Homo sapiens: one gene and its partner. The protein of the gene in region 1 interacts with the protein of each later gene in a pairwise test. Each region holds a gene or a part of one and is shown on either strand. Other genes may lie near its edges. The genes, in order: MAP2K3 and PDGFRA.

Evidence for each region.
Region 2: the proteins of MAP2K3 (region 1) and PDGFRA come close enough for resonance energy transfer, tested with the Homo sapiens proteins (2 studies listed by BioGRID).

The regions. Positions count from the first base shown.
Region 1 is NC_000017.11:21,301,651-21,305,565, reverse strand, and holds part of MAP2K3 (dual specificity mitogen-activated protein kinase kinase 3), read right to left. Parts: intron 3,424-3,915; coding exon 3,307-3,423; intron 2,384-3,306; coding exon 2,332-2,383; intron 1,141-2,331; coding exon 1,013-1,140; intron 516-1,012; coding exon 438-515; intron 1-437. UniProt on the Homo sapiens protein: Dual specificity kinase. Is activated by cytokines and environmental stress in vivo. Catalyzes the concomitant phosphorylation of a threonine and a tyrosine residue in the MAP kinase p38.
Region 2 is NC_000004.12:54,295,293-54,299,060, reverse strand, and holds the end of PDGFRA (platelet-derived growth factor receptor alpha isoform 1 precursor), read right to left. Parts: 3' UTR 816-3,768; downstream 1-815. UniProt on the Homo sapiens protein: Tyrosine-protein kinase that acts as a cell-surface receptor for PDGFA, PDGFB and PDGFC and plays an essential role in the regulation of embryonic development, cell proliferation, survival and chemotaxis.

The DNA of each region.
Region 1 (3,915 bases):
CCCAGGATTGAGAGCCCGCCCACCCTTTCTACCACCCCACCGCAATGTACCAGGACGCCACCGACAACAAACCTTCTGCTATGAAATATTTTTGAAAAGATCTTTACCATCTTGCTTTTGCATGATTTACATACCAGGAACTTACGTAATTTGGGATTGGCTGTGATTTCTCAACAAGCACCAAGAACTCCAGAGAAAGCCCTGTGGCCACCATATCACAAAGCACCCAGGACTTCACGATGAGTGACCCTGACCCTAGGAGGTTCCCTTAAATAGATGGTAATTTCTGATGGCACATTTTCTTCTCAGATTTTGAAGCCAATACTTCTTTCCAGAACCTAAACTATTTGATGAGTCCCCCAAAAGCTCAGGGCCCCAGGCACGGCTCCACCCACCCCACCTGACCACCAAGGGCAGGCCCTGGCCCCCCACAGTACCATGGTGATGCCCAGGCTCCAGACGTCGGACTTGACATTGTAGCCCTTCTGGTTCAGCTCTGGGTTGATCCTCTCAGGCTGCAGGAGGGAAGAGTGAGGCGTGAACACCCGCCCCAGGTAAGCCCCCATGGCTAGGCCTTGCCTCCCAATCCCCAAACTGAGCGCTCAGCTTAGCCCACCTGCCCATGTGACGGGGGAGGAAACTGAGGCTAGGAGGGCCTGGGTCATGCTTAGAAGGCCCAACCCTTGCATCGGTCTGACCCTACCCGGGAGCAGGCCCCTAAGGCCCTCCTGACAATGAGGGCGGGGCGGGACCTGCACAGCCCACCAGTGTCCTCCGCAGAGGTGGTCCATGAGCTTATCACCCAACTGGGGCACTGTGGGGGTCAGTTAACAACGGGGTACAGAAGGGCTGCCCCTGGGCAGCAAGACACAGGTGGCCCCACTACAGCAGGAAACGCAGTGTGGGGAGGCTCTGCCCCTACGGACAGAGGGTATGGCCGGGGTGGCCAGCCTGGGCAGATTTCTCCCCGCCCCATCCTCTCCTGAGCCTGGGGGGCTTGGGGACCACTCACGGCCATGTAGGGCTTGCAGCCGGCATCCATCGTCTTGGCCACAGAGTCCACCAAGTAGCCACTGATGCCAAAGTCACACATCTTCACATGGCCCTCCTTGTTGATAAGGACATTGGAGGGCTTCACATCTGCCAGGGAGGGACATGCCTCAGCCACGTCTGTGGAGCACGACTGGAGGCAGGTGCCATGCTCTGCATAGCTGTGCCCCCCTCCCTCGCCCAAGACCCCTCCTGTGCCCCCTCCCATGCCCCAGTGGGCAGGTTGCACCAGGGTCCCAAGGGTCAGACCAGGGAACTGAGGCTGCAAGAGGTGCCGGGCCAGCTGAGAGTCATACTTGGTCCTCAGGGAACAGCCAGGACGTGCCCAGCCCGGCCCGGCCACTGCAAGGAAGGCAGGACTCCAGGTGCTTTGCTGGGAGCACCGTGCCTGCATCCGCCCTCCAGACATGAGGTCCAGTGAGAGCCTGGCTTGTGTGGGTGCTCCCAGAGGGCAGCAGGATCAATTAAAGCCTGGGAGGCAGGATCTGCGTGTTTGGACATGGAGTCCCCACAGACCAGCATGGGAGAGCAGCCCAGCAGGGATTCTCCATACAAATGCGCATAGGACACTCACATCCCCGTGCCCTCCATGGGGATGTGTGTAAAGATGGAAATGCACATAAAAAGGACCAGAAGGTTCCGTGCCAACCGCCAACCACAGTGACCTGGGGGGCTGGGATGGGCACCCAGTGGACAATGGGAACTAAGCCTAATTCATTTTTTGAAAAGCAGTAAATCTGGAAAAATAGACTTGTGCTCAGCAGCAAAAAGGAACAAACTGAGACCACACCAGACCCAGGTGGGTCCAGAAACATCAAGCGAGGCTGATGTTCCAGAAAGGGCGAAACCAACCCACTGTGGGAAAACCAGACTTGTGGGTGCCTTAGGCACATGGGGGATGGCAGGGAAGGAGCCCAAGAGAACATTCTGGGAGGGGGTGAGAGAATTGTCCTGCATCTTGGAGGGAGGTGGTTGCATGGGTGTGAACATGATTATATGCACTCTATGCTGGAGTTTCACGATTTGTAAACTATACATCAGAACAGAACCCAGTCCACCTTTCTCAGGACAGAAGTCAAGCCAGTCCTTGCTTCGAGCACCAGCAAACCTGAGGGGAGGCAGCTGCAGGGCTGCAGGTGGAAAGCGGCTGGAACCCCATCGGGCACGTCACAACCTATCACCTCTCGGAGCCACAGTTGCTCATAGGGAGACGTCCACCCGCCTTGGCCTGGGATCCCTCCCACTGGCTACACCGTGCCTGGGTGGCTGCCGGGCACTGACCTCTGTGGATCACCGACAGCTTGCTGTGCAGATGCTCCAGGGCCCGCACGATCTGGCGGTGGGGTGGGGAGGAGGGAAGAGACAGGACTCTGTTATTCCTGGTCACGTCAAAAACGACAGAGCAGTAAGACCCCATCCATGTCCACCTGTCTCCCGCTCCCGCTGCACAGGCTACGCACCCTCTCATCCCAGCCTCCTGCCCTGTCCTGGCATTTGCCCCAGCATCCTAACAATCCTGGTGCAGACACACTCGGCCTCCTGCCTCCTCTCATCCTCCCGGGCTCACCTCCCAGGGAGGCATCATCACTGCCTGCCACACTCTTCTTGGGTAAAACCCAGCTCTTGGCAGCCTCCCTGTCCCATCTCCCCTCCCGTGGCAGAGCCAGTATTCTAGCAGCTTGGAGCCATTTCCCTTGGGAAGGCTGGGTGGGGAGCCTGAGGCAGGGGTATATTGTAAATGTTTCCAGATGCAGTGAGGATTGAACCAGTCTCACTGGTTCTATTTTCCTTTTTCCTTTGGCTACTGGAATGCTCAAGCCCAGTGTTGCTGCCCTCCCTCAAGGACTTTTTAGACTCAAAAAGCACACATTTTGGATGCTAACCTTTCCCCCAACTTAGCTTGTACCTCTGTGAGCTGCCCCGGGGCATTTTTAGTATGACGCTGTTGTAAATACTAAATTCCTTTTTTAAAAAATGATCTGGAACTCAAGAGTTGGAATCAATGGCTCAGACACCTGGATCTGCCAAATCTGTGGGGCTCCAGGAGCCCCAGGAGCGGAGGTCTCCTAAGCACAAAGGCTCTGGTCTGGGGTGGAGGAGAAGGGCCTATGCAGGGCAGCTGCCCAGGTTCAGGGGGCACATTGATGCCCAGCTCTGCCCAAGACACCATCAATAGGCAGGCTCCATGCCTGCTGGCAGGGCTGGGCCTCTGCCTATGCACCTAGGACCCCCCGCCAGCCCACCCAGGCCACTCACAGACACAGCAATCTCCCCAAGGATGTCCTCTGGAATTGTCATGTTTTTATCCAGCACCTTCCGGTAGAACTTGTCCAAGGATGTGTCCATGAGCTCCATGCAGATCCACACGTCTCCCTGTGGGTGACACCCAGAGCTCAGCCAGGCTGCCGGGCTGCCCGTGTCTGCACCACCTGCACTGCCTGCCCCAGCACCAGCCCCAGCCCCAGCCCCCTCTCCGACGTGTGCCCACCCACTCAGCCACAGTTCACCGGGCTCCCACCCACCACCCACTTGCCCGCTTCCCCCACCCTCCAACTCTGCCTGCACTGCCAGGTTCGGGCGCCAGCCTCCTCTATCTGATCCCTAATTCCAGGTGTCTCCAGGGAGGAAGAGGATTAGCACACAGCCTCGCTGGGTCCCTCCACCAGAGCTTCAGGATGCACCTGCACCAGCTCCATGGCAACAGCCGGCCCTGCTGACCGACAGACACCCTCATGCCAGCTGACCCTGGCAGATGGCTCCCTGCCTGCAAGGACCTGCTCCCTCTTCCCCAGTGAACTCCTGAGGACCCTCCTGACAGGAAGGTTGGGAGATGCGCAGGGGGCACCCGCAGGCTGCAGGGGCCCC
Region 2 (3,768 bases), on another chromosome or scaffold:
ACCCATTTAGGTAGATATGAAGCAAACGTAGAGATGTGTGTATGGGAATATATATACACAGATGCATACAAAGGGAACTGGAAGTTTAAAAGACACACCAAGTGGTGCAGCTCTGCCTCTTGGAAACAGGACAGGGACAGGGAAGAAGACACGGTGAAAAAAATAATTTAACATTTTACTTCCTACACTTTTACGACAGTTGAATGTTGTACAGAGTTACTGCAGTCCTGTATTCCTTATGCAGGGGAAGAAAACACCACAGGATAAAGATGAACAATCAAAAAAATGATGAGACCAAAGATGAGCCAAGTGCCAATCATCTTTAAGTCAAATACTGTGTCGTGGAACAATCTAGCTCATATAATGTCTTAAACCTTAGATATTCTATTGGTTCATCAAAAGCCTAATAAAGGCCAGGCGTGGTGGTTCACACCTGTAATCCCAGCACTTTGGGAGGCCGAGGCAGGCAGATCATCTAAGGTCAGGAGTTCGAGACCAGCCCGGCCAACATGATGAAACCCCCATCTCTACTAAAAATACAAAAATTAGCCAGGCATGGTGGCAGGCGCCTATAATCCCAGCTACTTGGGAGGCTGAGGCAGGAGAATTGCTTGAACTCGGGAGGCAGAAGTTGCAGTGAACTGAGATCACGCCACTGCACTCCAGCCTGGATGACAAGAGCAAAACTCCGTCTCAGGAAAAAAAAAAAAAAGGCCTAATATAGAGTCCTACAAATGTTGCTAAGAAAGTAAATAGAACAGGATTGCTTTAATTCTTATGATTAAACTAAAAACAAAAATGCTGAAACCTTAGTATAACTTTAAATTATATATCATTTATTGAAATATAAAGATCTTCATTTACACGTTTTAAAACAAAAACATGAACAGGGGCATTCGTAATACATTTTGTATTGGTAGACCCTATCAAGTTAGTTTTTCTCACACATTCACCACACCATTGTTTTGGGAACATGTAAGTATCTTTCTTTTTATTATTTCTAAAATATAAATTTTGGACATTCAAAAGTGCAACAGTTAATGTGCCTGTGGGGATTATCACAGTTAAAAAAATATAAACGAAGGCAGTGATACAGCTTGTCATAAATGTTTTGGCAGTATTCTCCAAGTCTATATAGAAATACATATATACATATTGATGTATAACATCATTTTATCTTATGTCCCTCTTCACAAAAATAGGACCATTTTGTACAGATTGGCAGACCACATTTTAAGGACATCACTAATCGTTTAAAAAGTCACAAATAGTGTTTCTCAGGCCGGCTTTGATTGTCATCATAAAAATAGAAAGTAGGAAAGATTGGCAAATTTTCTTCTGGAGACTTTGCAGGAGGCCAAAAGGAAACAAATCTGGAATTTGCTGAAAACACACACACACACACAAATGCAGTCATATACAAATTCAGGTGGGAGCATTTGTTAGGACTGGAAACTGCTGGACTGAGAAGTTTCATCCGGCCTCATGATGTCATGCAAGGCTCACAGCAATATCAAAATGCAAAGCACCAACAAAATAAGGCTGTACAAGGGAGAGTGAGCGATAAACAGAATGCTTGAGCTGTGATTCTAGAAACACAAACGTATTTCAAGTCTAATTGGCTCTACAGAACCTAGTCAGGTTTTCGTTTTTAATTGGCCAATCTGGCTCAGTCTTCGCACTTACTATGAAAAAGTTGGATAAGAAAGTTGGGGCTTGCATTGAGATTACACCAGTAGGTAGTCAAGTACTTTATTATTGCTTCTGCATCTTCCAAAGCATCATCTGCCGATAGCACAGTGATTGCAGTAATCACAGCCCATGTTTCATTCATATGGTATCAGCAATTAAGCAGTATTGCAAAGAATGCCAATGAACCCACACCAACCTGTTTGACAGTGTGGATAGATGTGACAATTCATCCTCCCATCTAACCTCAAATTATCAGTAAAACTTAAAATGTTTTTTCCACCAAAACACTGAGCTGGTTACACAGAGACTTGGAACACTGAATTGCATAATTTTTGTACATGCCTTTCCTTGGCGGGGTATGGAGTGGGAGGCAGAAGACGGGAGACGGGGAAAGTTCAATCTCCCCCATACAGTGGGAAGTAGCATCTTTACTTTTGGAAAACCTGTCAAAACCAAACTTTAGCTTTCTCAGCCTCAGCTAAGACTGGAAAGTTAAATTAAGGTCGCAATTGCTAGCTAGATGGCATTAAATGTCACTAACCTGAAGCCAAGGATTTAAATAGTAGGCTTCCTGCGTGGTTGAATGCCAACCCTGTTCCAAAGTTCAAATTATTTGTTTCCCATGGCAACTTCCTGAAACCTAAGTCAGTGTTTCCGAAAACTGGCCGATCAGAACAGCCAGGGAGTTTAGAAAAATACAGACTCTGGTTTCCCTCAGACTTCATACTTCAGAATCTCAAGGATGGAAACCCAGGATCTAGTCATCCTGGCTGCCACACACATTTGAGAACTGAGGATCCAGGCTAATGCACATCCAGCCTCCACTAAAGAATATCTTTATGGTCTCGAGTTTCAAACTCTTTCTCTTTGGGGTAAGGGGTGAAAGAAGGAGGCTGATGTCTGGGCATCCTTCTGACCCTTTTCAGGTTCATAGATTCAAAAAATACATATATTGGGGTCGCCAAAGCTTTCATCAGGCATGAAGAAAAAAAAAAAAAAAACTTCTGCAAATCCAGTCTTTTTGCTGATCATTATATTTTCCATTGGGTAATATACATGAGAAGTTATGTTCAGCACAGGTTTATGCCTCTACATTGAGAACTTTTAGGACTTAAGAGTTTTGTTTGTTTCTAATCCCATTATTTCAGAGGGCAGTTAATTGTTTTTTAATACGATGGATTGGGGAACCTATTCAGTACAGTTAAAAATTCTGACTTCCTGGACAACACTACTTTTACTTTGTTCTCTATGCTCAACTAAATTTAATTCACTAAAGCTATTACCATACTTTATAGAGAAACATGTTATTTAATATAAATGTCAAAAACTGTCAAACTCATCACCTACTTAGTAAGGATTGTTTTAAATTGTGCTTTCTCTGGAGGGAAATCATGTTACATTATTACACATTTAGCATTACTGATAACAGTAGTAGTATTATAAACATAGATTACAATATGAAAATGAGTTGTCAGGCTTCTAAATGACCCAAATCTATTAAACAAGGTTGGTTAATTATTATTCTTTATCTCTTTAACACTAAAAAAGATAGCAAAATGCTATAGTACCAGTACCTTTTAAGGTTCAAAAATGGTTTTTCATGCACTTCTTTAAAAAGTTCAACAGCAGCTGACATCAGGTTTCAAGAGGGAAGTACATGGATGGATTGAGTGGTCTCTTCAGAAGTCCAAAGAAGATAGTTAATACAATCTAAACACAGCCTTGGTTAGAGTTATTTACATAATTACAATGCTGAAGTTCTGTCGCAGTATAAATTGTGTCTGTTGGACTCTCACCAATGTCCTTGAAGCACAAAGTTCACCTTCTGTGGCCTATTATTCCCTTATCCATCTATCTCCAAACTTCACACACCACTGAGATGCTACTGAGGCATTGCAAGAGGCAACACTGACAAAGTTCATTTCAAAATATCCCATTCATTCATATTTAGAACGCTCCCCGAGGCCCTTGGCTGGGAACTTCTCTTTAAACATCAACCAAGTCCTCCTCTCAACCTCTGCATTGCAATAAAGTGGTTTTCTGAACGGGATCCAGAGGTGGCCCCAGAAGTGGAAG